Linked DNA regions of Homo sapiens: region 1 is reported to be linked to region 2. Evidence: microRNA targets listed by miRTarBase, many of them from high-throughput screens and not tested one by one. Region 2 holds a microRNA gene; the other region holds the end of a gene's coding sequence.

What was found. The annotated mature microRNA hsa-miR-151a-3p reads CUAGACUGAAGCUCCUUGAGG and lies in region 2 at 1,015-1,035, opposite strand. An mRNA with a match to its seed (bases 2 to 7 or 8) in the 3' UTR can be bound and repressed. Matches are read on the target gene's strand: a 7mer-m8 pairs with bases 2 to 8, a 7mer-A1 pairs with bases 2 to 7 and ends in A, and an 8mer does both.
Region 1: miRTarBase lists RPUSD4 as a target of hsa-miR-151a-3p. Seed matches in the 3' UTR shown: 7mer-m8 at 1,945-1,951.

What each region holds. Positions count from the first base shown.
Region 1 is chr11:126,200,639-126,203,765 of GRCh38, forward strand. It overlaps RPUSD4 (RNA pseudouridine synthase D4), which reads right to left. Exons shown (of 7, transcript NM_032795.3): 7 at 1,458-3,019. The coding sequence ends at 2,780. Among named protein-coding and RNA genes, the nearest start is that of RPUSD4, 9.4 kb to the right of the region's middle.
Region 2 is chr8:140,731,573-140,734,572 of GRCh38, forward strand. It overlaps MIR151A (microRNA 151a), which reads right to left and starts at 1,081; the gene lies at 992-1,081. The region is part of intron 25 of PTK2 (protein tyrosine kinase 2); the gene reads right to left.

The DNA.
Region 1 (3,127 bases), not on the chromosome of region 2:
GCCTCCCAAAGTGCTGGGATTACAGGCATGAGCCACCATGCCCAGTCTACCACGCTTCTTAAACCAGGTCCCTCTCAAGCCCAGATGGTAACTAATTACAAGCAGATGACATGACCTAATATTTGATATTTCTTATGGTGTGCTTAAATGTTCTATTAATTTTTAAAAGGCCATTCCATATTTACAAATAAAAGTTATTTAAAACGCAAACACATTTTTAAAAAATCATACTTTTATGGCTAACGAATCAACATACAAGAGCATTTCAGCTTACTCTGCCTAGCTATAATCACATTCCCTGCACCCTTAAAAGCTGCAGATCAACTAGGTTATATGAGGTTGTTGTCCTGGTCCTTAAGCACCCCCATGAGTCAGTCGACACTAAAGAAGACAGTCCTTTTGCGGGGCACAGAGCCGCTGACCTCGGCTTGAGAAGGGTCTGGGAAGGTGCAGCAGGGCAGACATCTGCCCCAGTCTCCAATGTGGTGACCCCATATCCCAGGGAAGCTTAGGAATTCTCAAAAAGTCAACTGTCACTAGCTTGGTAGCTCCCAGTTCAGCAACCAACACAAAACCCAGCACTGAAGTGCTAAAGAATCACGAAGAACAGTAGGGCAGCATTTGTGACAAAGCCGGGCAGACAGAACGACACAGCTGGTTCTCAGTCTAGCTCCAACGTGCCCGCCTGGGGAACAACAGTCCCGCCTCACACTTACTTGTCAGTAAACCACACAGCTAACTGAATTTTCCCAGCTAAAGAGAGCTCCCTGAGATGAGTGAATATCCCCAGATACCTTCAGCCTAGTAAATATTCAGTTTGCCAAATTAAAGACTAGATTTACATCTTGGAGGAGACCATATTTATATATGAGAATATAAATCATCTGTTACTTCTCCAAAATGTATCCTGACTAGCTCCTACTTTTCTACATTTTCCAGTTCTTTTATTTCCATCATCTGTTCCTCTAAGATTGTTCTCCTTTTTGTGAGACAGGGTCTCACTCTGTCACGAGGCTGGAGTGCAGTGGCACAATCATGGCTCACTACAGTCTCAACCTCCTGGGCTCAGGTGATCCTCCTAGCTCAGCCTCCTGAGTAGCTGGGACCACAGGTGTGCGTGTGCCAACACACCCAGCTAATTTTTGTATTTTTTGTAGCAACAGGGTTTCACCACGTTGCCCAGGCTGGTCTCGAATTCCTGGGCTGAGGTGATCCGCCCGCCTCGGCCTTTTCGGCCTCTCAGAGTGCTGGGATTATAGGTGTGAGCCACCGCGCCCAGCCTCTTCTCCATTCTTGTGGGTATTCCTGTTCATCTGTTTCCCTGAATTAATGTCAATTATCACTATTTCCTAAGTGTCACATTCTTGTTCCTTTTTCTTGACTAGCATGGTTTACTAGAAACAGAAATAACAGCAAAAATATTTAGGTCTTATATAAACAAATATAGTCATCTCGTCTGTGCTTTCAAAGTTAAATTTATTATGCACAGTAATGGGTACCATGGAGACAGGGAAAGGGCTAGAAAGTGGCATCATCTATACAGAGGGAACATATAAAGACTGTCCCGGGGTGTACCCCCCTAACTGTGCTGTCACTCCAACTCTGTCAGAAAGAAAAAGTAGTGTGAGGTGTATTTGTTTGCAAGAAACAAGGTGGAAACTAGATGGACCAGCTGAGCAGGGAGGCCAAGGTCATTTCCATCTATCCCTAATGGTGTTCAGTATAGCCCTCTCCTTCCTGAGACCTAAGAACAGAAGATACGCTTCCACAACAGAGATTTTTGATTTTTTAATGGCAGCACTCTCATAACTACATTCACGGACCAACCAAAGCCATCTCCAAGCCTAGAAAGGATACATACTACACGCAGCGAAAATGCCAACCACTGATCCAGAATTTTCAAGATGGCACCTTTCCCCAAACTTCTATACCATTCATTAAACATAGACTGCAAACTGCTAGCCTGTAGACCAAATTCAACCTCTAAGTATTATTTGCTTAGGTGCCTAAGCATCTTTAAAAATTTGATTTAGTTGGCAATACACTGGGAGGTTTCACATAAATATCTAGGTTTCCAGCTTCTCTGAAGAAATGAGAAAATCCATTCCCACATGGCAACAACCAGCTGGAGCTAACAGCTGTTAGACAGCATGCCGCTCCCCGCTACTGCCTTACACCCAGCCAGCTTCATGTGTGCATGTTATCTGCCTGCCATTCACATCGGTTCTCCTTGCTCAGCAAATGTCCCACCTCAACCTCACACTCAATACCCTTATACAGGTTCCCTAATCAGAGTTCAGTAGGGCACCCACACTATAGCTGGGCAATCCCTGGATGCTGTGATATTTGTTAACCATTATGTTCTTTCCAACCACGGGAACCTTCCTAAGAGCTCAAGAGCTTCACTGCTGGATAAAAACAGTTCCTGATCCCGGATTCTGACCTTTAGTTTTCCTTTTCCAGTCACTGCCCCAGTCTGCCTGGCCCTGGGCTCTGTTCCATATTGGCAATGAGAGCCCACGGCAGGGAGACTTCCAGCAGGCTTTTCCACAGTGCAGCCAAACTATCAGTAAATAGACTTTGTTCTCCATTAAAAGCCCTGTAGCAGCTGAGTTGCTTTACCTTATCCCACCTGGCTCTTACGCAGTCTGTTCCAAGTGAGAAGTTAGCAGAGTCCTGTAAACAAAGAACAGTTCAGGGGCCAACCTGCGCTCCCAGGTGCCAGGATGCTCTCAGGGTCTTCACTGTGCTCCCAGGTGCCAGGGTGCTCCCATGGTCTTCACTGTGCTCCCAGACACTTGGCTTCATTGTTCTCATTTTGATCCTCATTTGGCATCTCTAAACGCAGGCGGTGCAGGGAATGCACAAAGAAGCGAGGAAGTTTGCAGACCAAGTTGAGTTCCTCCTTCCCGGACCCCAGGGCAGGCAGGATCAGCTGCCGGGCGTGCAGGTGAAGGGGGATGTAGCGGGCCTTCGACTGTTCTAGCCCCAGCTTCTTCAGGGTGCCCACAGACAGCTTCTATACAAAGAAAGGACAGACCCTTGAGAGCAAGGCCAACAGTCCACCCTTGACGAACATGCAAGGTCAGGGCACTTCTACTTACAGGGAACCAAAACTAACCCCCTG
Region 2 (3,000 bases):
AATCACTTCTCAACTAATATAGTCAAAAACAAATATACAAGGCTGGGCATGGTGGCTCATGCCTGTAATCTCAGTACTTTGAAAGGCCAAGGTGGGTGGATTGCTTGAGCTCAGGAGTTTGAGACCAGCCTGGGCAACATGGCAAAACCCCATCTCTACCAAAAATACAAAAAATTAGCTGGGTGTGGTGGTGTGGTGTGCATGCCTGTAGTCCCAGCTACTCAGGAGGCTAAGGTGGGAGAATCACTTGAGCATGGGAGGTGGAGGTTGCAGGCAGCAGAGATGGTGCCACCGCACTCTAGCCTGGGCAACAGAGGAGACCCCGCCTCAACAAAATAAAATACACACGCATACACTCCAGTTAAAGATGAGGGGAATCCCACAGTAATTTGAGTCTACTTGCAAATATTCTTTCAAGGTAGGGAAGGAGAATTCTTTCGAGGTCAAGAAGAAGAATGGGATTTGGGAAACATTTTTAACTACCATAATTTTAACGACCAAAGGGCTATCCAAACTTATTATTTCTTTGTTAAAATCTTGGAAATAATAAAAATTTTGAAAAAAATTAATAACCTATTTAGTTATTGTGATACACTGTTATATGCAAATGTCCAAGTAAGCAATTATATTATATAGTGACATTTTATAATATAAAATGGTGGCCTATTTGGTAGCCTAATTGTATATGTTCAAAACGCAAAGTTAAACACCATTTCTAAAACAGAACAATGCAGAATGAATGAATGCTCAACTACCTGTGCTAGTAGTATATAAGAAGATATCCATAAATTATACTACAGGTACCTATTTAAAGTAATTATATGTAGTTCTAAAAATATGTATTGGATACTTTTTGGAGATAATTTACCTCAGTGGAGCATTCCTTAGTATTAAGAATCACTCATATGTTCTAAGCCTTGAATTCAGTGCCTGGGTGACTCTTCCTGTATCTAGCTAGCTAGGCTACTGGCCTGGAGGTTTGGGCAACACCGAGGTGAGTATGACCATCCCTGTCCTCAAGGAGCTTCAGTCTAGTAGGGGATGAGACATACTAGACTGTGAGCTCCTCGAGGGCAGGAAAAGTGTTTTAGTCATCTTTGCCCCAGTGACTAGCACCAGGCTCAGCTACTGTAGGTGCTCAACAGTGTTTATCGAACTGAATTGAACACGGGTTGCAGCCATCTATAGCAGCATAGGGTAAGCCTGACAAGAAGAACAAAGAGCTTTGGAGACTCAGAGGGTGAAGGCTAGTCAGCTGTGAAGTCACAGAAGACCCAGTGCGTGAAAGAAGCCGAGAAAGATGGGTAAGATCTCCCCAAATGAAGAAGGAGGCATTCTGGGCTGACAGGAGGGTTAGTTTAGCTACTGTGTGTGAAAGGGATGAGAAGACAATCTCAGGCCATAATGAAATGAGGCCTAAATGTTACTGTGGAAGCCTTTACCCAAACATAAAAGGTGACAAAACCCCACTGAAAGTTGTTTTGACCAGGGGAGTTATTTTTCCAGTGACATTTCAGGAAGATTGACTAAGCTGGTCATGCCAGACAGATGGGAAAAGAGCGTGGGATGGAGGGTGGGGGGCAGGCACAAGGAGTGAAGCATGACTCCAAGATGGTGCCGAAGATAAAGGCACTATTCCAACCTGGAGGAAGTGAGGAGGAAGGGCTGGCATAGAAGAGAATGTAACAGCTTGCTTTCTGGATAAACATGATGCCCAGCCAGCAATTTAAAATGTAGGTTTGGGACTTGAGAAAAGGGCAGGACCAGAACTATAGACAGACAGAGGTAAGCAGCAAAGCCATGTGAATGGGTCAGACATCCTGGGAAGAGTAATGAGAGAAAATGGGAGAAAATAAGAGGCTGAAAACAGAAATTTGGTTAATATTCATGGTAAAGGTGGAGAGATGGCAAGTCAATGAGGTAGAAAGAGATGCCAGGGAGGTGGGGTGATAGAACTGGTATCAGAGAGGAACAATGCCAAGGACAGAATCTGTCAAATCCTGAGGAAAGATCAAGGAGGAACAAATAGGAGCAAAACAACATGCAATAAAGCATGTCCAAAAGCCAGCTGTAAAGGTGAGAGAATAGGCAGTTAAGTTATATGAGAATTAATTAAGGAACTGAAGATTTTTGGCTTGAAGAAACTAAGAGGAGGTAAGGAAGCTGTTTAGAATTACCCTGAAGGCCTATCGTGTGAAAGGCAGAGTAGGGTTGTTCTATGGGGCCTTGAAAAGTAGAACCAGGCCGGTGTGTGAGAGTTATGGGGACGGAGACCAAGAGCGTGGCTGGTCTTTCCAATGTGGGGCTCACTGTATTGTAATAACCAGTGATACCTCGGTCTCCTCCACCAGACTTTAAACTCTCTGGGGGCAGGGATTGGGTCTTGTTCACTGTTGGACCCACAGAACCTAGCTTAGAATAACAAAGGTGCTTAGCAAACATTTTCAGACTGGATGAATCCTTTGTGCTTCTACCTATAGGTCTTAATTCTTCTTTGAAATACTCTCCTTAAAAGGAATCCTGTCTAGCAGGTTGAACAGCTTGAACATGTGGTGAGAAGGCTGGGCTAGATGGTGAAAGGCCTGGACCCTGCAGTTGATGATTTTTAGGAAAAAGACTAAAATACAGCATGAAAAACAAACCCATAAAAACTCACATAAAATGGAGGAAGTCCCCAAGTGTGAAAACAGGTGACACAGCACACACTGAACCATGGTATTGTTTATATAATAAAGCTTCTCATGCCTATGTGTTATATTACAGTATCTTGTTTATTACAGTATTAAGTCTCATTCTAGACTCCAATTCAATTCAATTCAACAAATGTTTATTGAGCACTTATATGGTGCCAGGTTCTAAGCTTGGCATTGGGGCTACAGAAATCAGTAAGACACAATGATGCCCGTCAAGAGCTCTGAGTGTAGCTGGGGACATGCACAAGCGAACAAGAACCTCTCCAGGCCAGGCAACAGGGTAGAGTATGCACATGCTTCTCTGAGG